Linked DNA regions of Homo sapiens. Changing the gene in region 1 together with any one later gene gives a genetic interaction. Each region holds a gene or a part of one and is shown in the gene's direction. Other genes may lie near its edges.

The links.
Region 2: changes in COPE (region 1) and WDR7 together harm fitness more than expected from each alone (negative genetic interaction), as found in Homo sapiens cells (one large-scale study listed by BioGRID).

The regions. Positions count from the first base shown.
Region 1 is NC_000019.10:18,901,557-18,907,004, reverse strand, and holds part of COPE (coatomer subunit epsilon), read left to right. Parts: coding exon 1-45; intron 46-1,069; coding exon of another isoform or gene 1,070-1,138; intron 1,139-1,375; coding exon 1,376-1,429; intron 1,430-2,152; coding exon 2,153-2,234; intron 2,235-3,581; coding exon 3,582-3,737; intron 3,738-5,448. UniProt on the Homo sapiens protein: The coatomer is a cytosolic protein complex that binds to dilysine motifs and reversibly associates with Golgi non-clathrin-coated vesicles, which further mediate biosynthetic protein transport from the ER, via the Golgi up to the trans Golgi network.
Region 2 is NC_000018.10:56,654,359-56,658,013, forward strand, and holds part of WDR7 (WD repeat-containing protein 7), read left to right. Parts: intron 1-3,655.

The DNA.
Region 1 (5,448 bases):
GGATGCCGCCCTGCGTGCGCTGCACCAGGGGGACAGCCTGGAGTGGTGAGTGGCCTCCCTGCTCTGGGGCCAGCCCAGGGAGGCAAGTGCCCCCTGCCACATCTCCAGGCTGCGCACGGCCTCGCTGGCTGTCGTCATGGGAGCAGAGAAAGGTGGTGCTGAAATGAGGCCCTGGCCTGCTGTCCAGGCTCCAGCTCCCCTGCCCAGTGTGGGAGGCACTCCCATCTGCGCACCAGGCTGCAGATCCAAGGACACGGTGCCCAGGCTGCAACCCTCTGTTCCCAAGGGCAGAGCAGAAAGCGGCTTTGTCTCTGCTCGGTTTCTGTGTCCCCACCCCCCACGAAGCCTTCTGTGTCTCGGCCCTGGGCCCAGTCTCTCAGGCCTCCCCGGGCCCCCCATACCGGCCCTCCTCCAGGGCCCTCTGGGGTTGGGGTGCTGAAGCCCTGCAAGGTTGGTGCCCCCCTCCACCCTAGGATGTGACTCCGGGCCATGTCCAGGGCACTGGTCACAGAAAGTGTGTCAGTTCTTCCCCGTGAGCTGTCCCTGCAGTGCCTGCCTTCCACTGTGAGTTGCAAGCTGGGCATTTCATGGTCGCTGTGGATCTGCTCCCATCCCACCTCCATCCACAGAGGGCTTAGAATTGCAGGGCGAGCCAGGCATGGTGACATGCACCTATGTTTCCAGCTACTTGGGAGGCGGAAGCAGGAGTATCCCTTGAGTCTGGGAGGTGGAGGCTGCAGTGAGCCGTGATGGTGCCACTGCACTCCAGCCTGGGTGGCAGAGCCAGACCCTGACTCACACACAAAAAAGAAAATAAATAGGGATGTCACACTGTCGGCGAGCCGGCCGACTCGGTGCTGGTCCAGGTGCTGGCTCCTGTTGGCAGGAAAACAAGAACAAGAGGCCTCACGAGTAATTCGTGGTCACAGCCACCTGGGGCTGAGAGGGATGAGGGGACGAGGGGGCCTGCAGAGAGTGGGTGGCCCCAGGGCTCTGCTGCAGGTGCAGGTGCAGGGGCGGGTGCGTGGCCCTCCTCTAGGGCCTTGTTCCTGAGTGTTGATGCCTCCAGGGTGTCGAGTCCGGGCAGGGCCCTCCATCTGGAAGCACAGCCCATGGAGGCTGCTTCTCCAGATGGGCGGTGAGTGGGCCGGGGCCTGAAACCCCATCCTGGGTACCTCCCCCAGAGCTCCTGGGCCTGAGGAAGCTGAGCGGTGAAATGTGGGAGTGAGGGTGTCCTCCTCTGCTGGGCGGGGCTGGTGGTCCTAAGCACAGGACTTAGGAACATCCCAGACACACACAGTGAGCCCTGGGTGTGGAGCGGCCATGCAATGTGTCTGTGGCGACCCGCTGACCGCCCCCTCGCCCTGTCCTGCAGCACAGCCATGACAGTGCAGATCCTGCTGAAGCTGGACCGCCTGGACCTCGCCCGGTGAGCCCTCCTGCCCCTCTCCACCCGCACTGAGCCACAGCCCAGAGCGTCACAGCCCAGAGCGTCACAGCCCAGAGCGTCTGTGGTGCTGTCATTACTCTTGTTGTCTTTCCTTTCCATGGGGGTGGCTTGCTGTCGTTCAGCCCTTCCCTGCAGTATGTTGCCAGGGAGGAGGGCCATGGCTCTCTGTGCCTCAGTTTCTCTCTATGCAGTGGGTGGCAGGCCTCTCCCACAGGGTGAGGGTGGGCTTCATGGAGGGAGAGTGGAGGTTGTGCCTGGAGCAACATGTTACTTGACCAGCTTGTAACTGTGCCGTGGGGCTGGCGGGGCCTGCACGTGGCATCACCAGGTCGGAGGCCATGGCTGGGGGTCCAGGACTCCCCTGCTGCCGTTTCCAAAGCCCTTGCCTCAGAGTTGTTCACACTGTAGTTCCGTTGCCCTTCCCTGCGTTCCATCCTCCATGGAGTGAGTCTCTCCTGAGCTCTACCTTGTGGTGGCCACCCTGGGGGGCCATAGCTGGCCCCAGTCCCACCTTCCCAGGGCCTGCACGTGGTCAGACGGGCAGGGTGGCTCGGGCACTTAGTCGTGGGGTATGAGCATGCAGTGGAGCACAAAGCAGGGGCCATCCCCAGGCTCCGGTGGGCCCCAAGTGGGGACAAGGCAGGGATGGCCAGGCCAGGGCCCTCGGCCACTCAGCCCCTCTGTCATCTGTCCCCGCCCCAGGAAGGAGCTGAAGAGAATGCAGGACCTGGACGAGGATGCCACCCTCACCCAGCTCGCCACTGCCTGGGTCAGCCTGGCCACGGTGAGCCCTAGGCCATGAGGTGGGTGGGCATTGCGGGCACCTGGCTGAGCAGGGTCTGTGGGCACCCCCACCTGTGCGTAGGCTGCTGGCCACTCCAGTGGGGCTCCAGGATCAGGCCGTGGCCCCTGCCAGCCTGGCATAACTCAGCCTTGACTCCATTCCGGGCTTCTCACAGCCAAGCGACTTGGCCAGAGCCAGAGCGAAGAGATGGTGGGGGCGGGGACGGGTTCCTGAGCCTGAGGCACAGGGGTACTCGAGGGTCTGGGTTGGCCTGGCAGGCCCTCCTCCCCTCAGGGCTTCCTGGGGTTTTCTGCGACTCAGCTTTGCTCTCCAGGGTCCTGGTCGCCAGCCAGGGACGGAGTTCAGTGTTCCCATAGCAGCGGTGGAGATGTCCTCAGCTCCCAGGCCTGGGCACCTCCGCCCGGCAACAGCCCCTCTCCTGGTTTCTGGGACTTGGCCCCCTTCTGAGCCACTCTTTTGTGTGGGCCTATTAAAATGTGCTTCCTGGCTGGTCGCAGTGGCTCACGCCTGTAATCCCAGCACTTCGGGAGGCCGAGGCGGGTGGATCATGTGAGGTTGGGAGTTCTAGACCAGCCTGACCAACATGGAGAAACCCCATCTTTACCAAAAATACAAAATTAGCTGGGCTTGGTGCCATGCACCTGTAAACCCAGCTACTCAGGAGGCTGAGGCAGGAGAATCGCTTGAACCCGGGAGGTGGAGGTTGCGGTGAGCCAAGATCGCGCCAGTGCACTCCTGCCTGAGCAACAAGAGTGAAACTCTGAGAAAGAAAAAAAAATGTGCTCCCCGTCCCTGCCCGCCACGGGGCTGAAGCCTCACCCAGACAGACTTCCAGTGACCGTCTAGTATGGTAGGACAGGCCCCGGCAGACCTATCGGGTAGTTTGGGCTGTTTTCACTGCCTGCCTTGGCCTCAGGCTCCCCCTGCAAGTGTTCTGCTGTTCTGAGCAAGTGGACAGGTCAGGGCTGCTGGTCACAGAGCTGACTCCTCCTCCTCTGACGTGCTCAGTGACCCAGTGGTCCCCACTCAGACCCTGAGCCAGCCACCTGTGCACTGAGGCCTTGGAAGCCCCAGATTCCACCTCTGTGTACTCAGCACTCCGGGAGCTGGGTGGGAGGTGGGGCAGGAGGCGGCCACGAGTCTTTAGGCCCCATCAGCAGAGTACAAGTTACGGGTAGTCCCCATGGCGGAGTGGCTGTGCCTTGAACCGGGCACACCAGATTCGTCTCTGTGCAGTGCTGGAGTCCCCCCCGCTAGGGGAGGGGGCTGGCGGGGGAAGGGCCGGGCAGCAGGGGCACAGGCAATGATGCGGGACCCTCCCTGCAGGGTGGTGAGAAGCTGCAGGATGCCTACTACATCTTCCAGGAGATGGCTGACAAGTGCTCGCCCACCCTGCTGCTGCTCAATGGGCAGGCGGCCTGCCACATGGCCCAGGGCCGCTGGGAGGCCGCTGAGGGCCTGCTGCAGGAGGCGCTAGACAAGGTAGGCACAAGCCTGTCCCAGAGTGGGGACGGAGGGAAGGCCAGGCGGCCAGAGGGTGGGGTCAGGGCGGACAGAAACAAGTGTAGCAGAGACCCCCTGGGTGTGCGTGTGGCCCCACAGGGCTTCTAAGGCCCAGTCAGCAGCGAGATCCACAAAGCAGGGATCTCACCTGCAAAGAAATCCAGATTCCGGCCTCACAGAAATGGGGCATCTGGGCAGCCTGGGCCTCAGTGGTCTGAGCCGTCCTTGTTGTCACCTCAGCTGCCTGGCCCGGGACCTGCAAGTGGGACCCCTCACCTGAGTACATACTCAGTATTGGAGAGACACTCCCCGTACTTATGTAGGGGAGAGTGTGCTGTGGACAGGAGCTCTTCGTTGAGAGAGCGCTGCCTGCCCAGGGTGGCTGCAGTCATCTCCTGCCTGATGTCTGCAGTCTTTTCTTCCTTCCTTCCTTCCTTCCTTCCTTCCTTCCTTCCTTCCTTCCTTCCTTCCTTCTTTCCCTTCCTTCCTTCCTTCCTTTCCTTCCTTTCCTTCCTTTCCTTCCTTTCCTTTCCTTCCTTTCCTTCCTTTCCTTCCTTTCCTTTCTTCTTTTTTTTTTTTTTTGAGATGGAGTCTCACTCTGTCACCCAGGCTGCAGTGCAGTGGTGTGATCTCAGCTCAATGCAACCTCCGCCTCCTGGGTTCAAGTGATTCTTTTGCCTCAGCCTCCCAAGTAGCTGGGATTACAGGCGGCTGCCACCACGCCTGGCTAATTTTTGTATTTTTAGTAGAGACGGGGTTTTGCCATGTTGGTCAGGCTGGTCTCAAACTCCTGACCTCAGGTGATCCACCCGCCTCAGCCTCCCAAAGTGCTGGGATTATAGGCGTGAGCCACCACGCCTGGCCATCTGCAGTCTTTATGAAGAGTTTATGTTATGTTAAATTAAAAATATATATATATTTTGTAAAGACGGGGTTGTTCTTGCTGTGTTGCCCAGGTTGGTCTCGAACTCCTGGCCTCAAGTGATCGTCCCACCTCAGCCTCCCAAAGCATTAGGATTATAGGTGTGAGCCACCATGCTTGGTGGATTTTTTTTTTTTTTTTTTTTGAGATGGAGTCTTGCTCTGTCGCCCAGGCTGGAGTGCAGTGGTGTGATCTCGGCTCACTGCAAGCTCTGCCTCCTGGGTTCATGCCATTCTCCTGCCTCAGCCTCCCGAGTAGCTGGGACTACAGGCGCCCACCACCATGCCCAGCTAATTTTTTGTATTTTTAGTAGAGATGGGGTTTTGCTGTGTTAGCCAGGATGGTCTCAATCTCCTGACCTCATGATGCTGCCCACCTTGGACTCCCAAAGTACTGGATTACAGGCGTGAGCCACTGTGCCCAGCCTGGATTATTATTTTTATAATCAGAAAGGACATCAAAGCTTTTTCCATTTTGGAGAAACGAATTTTGGGGGGTTTTTTGTTTGTTTTTTGAAACGGTATGCCACCATGCGTGGCTAATTTTTGTATTTTTTGTTAGAAATGGGGTCTCACTGTGTTGTCCAGGTTAGTCTTGAACTCCTGGGCTCAAACAATTCTCACCCTCCTTGGCCTTCTAAAGTGCTGGGATGATAGACATGCGCCAGTGCGCCCAGCTGAGAAACAGTTTTAATCTAGTGACAAACACTGGTGAAGCCCTCCTCCCTGTCTGACTTTCCAGGGGCTGAGTTATCATCAGAAAGTTGTT
Region 2 (3,655 bases), on another chromosome or scaffold:
TGACCTTGTGATCTGCCTGCCTCAGCCTCCCAAAGTGCTGGGATTACAGGCATGAGCCAGCGTGCCCTGCCGAATCTGAGTATTTCTTCATGTGTGTTTTATCTTTTTTAATTTTTTGTTTGTGAAATTGCCTGTTCATCCCTTCACCCATTTTTATTTTGGGGTTTCAGTTCTTTCTTGTTGATTTGCGGACATTTCTTGTATTCCATAGATACTAATCATTTAAGTATTACAAGTGTATCTGTTCCTAATCTGTCATTTGTCTGTAATCTTTCTCATGATGTTCTTCATTGAACAGAAATCTTATATTTTGATATAATCAAATTAAAAAATCTTTTGGCTATATGGTTGTATTTTGGAGGTTTTGTTTAAGAAATCTTTCCCCAGTGCTGTGCCACAAAGTTACTCTGCTATGTTATGTACTGCTAATTCATAGTTTTCTTTTAAACTTATTGGTCTTTAATACATGCAGAGTTTAACTTTTTATGTGTCACAAGTTTGTGATCCAGTTTATTTTCCATGTACTGTGCCAGTTTTCCTGGCATCTTTCTTCCCTTTTCCCATAGATATGGTGTCACACTGTGTATTAAGTGCTCATATATACTCTGAATATTGAGTCCTTTCCTTTGGTTTGTCTGTTCTTGCTCTAACACTATACTGTTTTAACTCTATGGTTTTGTAGTAGTATGTTTTTTCCTCCTATATAAATAACTCTTCCCATTTATTTTGTTTTAACTTTATTTTGATATAATTATAGGTTCATAGGAAGTTGCACAAATAGTAAAGAGAGGTCTGGTTTCCTCCAGTGGTTACATTTTATGCAGCTTCACCCAAGGAACTTCCCTCAATAGTTACAATTTATACCACTGTAGTACAGTATCAAAACCAATAAATTGATTTTGTACAATGCCTGTGTATAGTTCTGTGCCATTTTATCACCTGTGTGGATTCCTGCAACTACCTCTGCAATCAAGATACAGAGCTAGGCTGATGTGGTTGACCATGCCCGTAGTCCCAGCACTTTGGGAGGCTGAGGTAGGCAGATTGCTTGAGCCCAGGAGTTTGAGACCAGCAACATGTCAAAACCCCGTCTCTGGCAAAAAATACGAAAATTAGTCTGGTGTGGTTGTGCATGCCTGTAGTCCCAGCTACTTGGGGGGCTGAGGTGGGAGGATCACCTAAGCCTGGGAAGGTTGAAGCTGCAGTGAGCTGTGATTATGCCACTGCACTCTAGCCTGGGACAGAGTAAGACCCTGTCTCAAAAAAAAAAAAAAAAAAAGAGGAAGAAGATATGGAACTATTCTATCACTACAAAGATTTTCTTCATGTTACCTCTTTCTAGTTTCATCCACCTCCCTTACCCTCACCATCCCTTAATCAGTTTAATCAGTTTCTATCTCTATAATTTTGTCATTACCAGAGTGCTATATAAATGGAATCCTATAGCATGTAATCTTTTGAAATTGAGATTCATCCAAATTGTTGAATGAGACAGTTCTTGAGATTCATCAACATTGTTGAATGAGACAGTTCTTGAGGTTCATCCAAATTGTTGCATTTATCAATAGTTTGTACTTCTTAATTGTTGAGTAGTATTCCATGGTACGTATGTATCCAAGTTTAACCATTCACCTGCATATCTGGGCTGTTTTTAATTTTTGGCTGTTACAGATAAAGCTGCTGTGAACATTCTTGTACAGTTTTGTGTGTGTGTGTGCGTATGGATTTAAATTTTCATTTTTTGGGGGATAAATGCCCAGGGACATGGTTGCTGGATGGTATGGTAAGTGTATGTTTAGTTTTTGAAGTAACTCCCAAAGTGTTTTCTGGAGTGGTTGTACCATTTTACATTTCTACCAGGAATGTATGAGAGATTGCATTTCTTTGCATCGTCTTCCACTAGCATTTGATACTGTCACTGTTTTTTTTTTTTTTTTTGGAGATGGAGTCTTGCTCTGTCACCCAGGCTGGAGTGCAGTGGCGCAATCTTGGCTCAGTGCAACCTCCGCCTCCCAGATTCAAGCAATTCTCCTGCCTCAGCCTCCCGAGTAGCTGGGACTACAAGCGCATGCCACCACACCTAGTTAATTTTTTGCATTTTAGTAGAGATGGGGTTTTACCATGTTGCCCAAGCTGGTCTCGAACTCCTGAGCTCAGGCAATCTGCCCGCCTCAGCCTCCCAAAGTGCTAGGATTATAGATGTGAGCCACTGCGCCCGGCCACTATTTTTTTTTTTTTTAACTGTTCTGATGTGTGATGATATCTCAGTGTGGTCTTAATTTGCATTTCCCAAATTAGCTAGTGATGTTAAATATCTGGTAGAGCACTTTCTCTCATCTTTGCCCATTTTCAAAGTTTGGCTCAGCTATTTATGTATTTTTATTCTTTCCTATGTATTTTAGAGTTAGTTTGAGTTTCTAAAAACAATACCAGTAGAACTTTGACTTACAGATTTATTTTGAGGAAAATTGATATCTTTATAATATTAGGACATTTTATCTGAGAACATGGAATGGTCTTTCACTTATGACTTTGAGTAAAATATTGTAGTTTATAAAAATACTGTGAATGGTATACTATTTTTTAAGTAGATTAGTGCTGATACAAGAAAATGCTATTGATTTTCATATATTGATAATCTACCTTTGTCTTTTTGTGTTCTACTAGACAGAAATCAAAATTCATAGTGTAAATCTTGAAGTAATTTTAGTGCGTGTAGAGTGAGGCCTGGAACTATGTAGTGCCTTTATTCCTGGGTTTATCTGTTACATCTCCCTGTGACAGTTTTTTAATTTGTTGGGACTTTTTTTTTTTTTTTAGATGGAGTCTCACTCTGTTGCCCAGGCTGGAGTGCAGTGGTGTGATCTCAGCTCACTGCAACCTCCAACTCCCAAGTTCAAGCGTTTCTCCTGCCTCAGCCTCCCTAGTAGCTGGGATTACAGGTGCCCGCCAGGACACCCGGCCAATTTTTGTATTTTTAGTAGAGATGGGGTTTCACCAGGTTGGTCTCAAACTCCTGACCTCAGGTTATCCTCCCACCTAGGCCTCCTGAAGTGCTGGGATTACAGGCGTGAGCCACCATGCCTGGCAATTAAATTATGGAGTTAGTGAGGTTTGTAGGTTCTGTTCTCATTTTTGTCCATTTAATTCATGCACTTTTTGAAGAATTAATAGTCTTACATATGTGCATGCCATTGATCATAGGCAAAATCAGCTGAGAGCTATGGATAGCTCAGTGAAATTCTGCCATCAATAAGAGGACATGTTCTCACTGACAGGTACTATGATAGTAATGTTAACTTACAATTTGAATTCCATCCATATGGTTCGTTTGTCTTTGTCTGTATCTGATTCTTAAAGCTGCTTTGCTGAATACAAAAGAACACAAACAATTATGTTGGAAGAAGAAATCCTACATCATGACTGCATTCAGAAAGTCCTTGTGAGTCCAAGGAAATTTTTACTTCCTTTCTATTAAGGAACATATATATTACATTCATGAAGTATTTACTATTTTAAATAAAATTGGATTTTTTTTCAAACTATGTTGGTGACGTTTAATGAAATTACAGGGGTTTTTTTTTTTGGCTGTTGATTACTTGAGTTAGTGGGAGCCATAAAATGTTGGAACAACGAATGTTAGGGCACTGGTCAG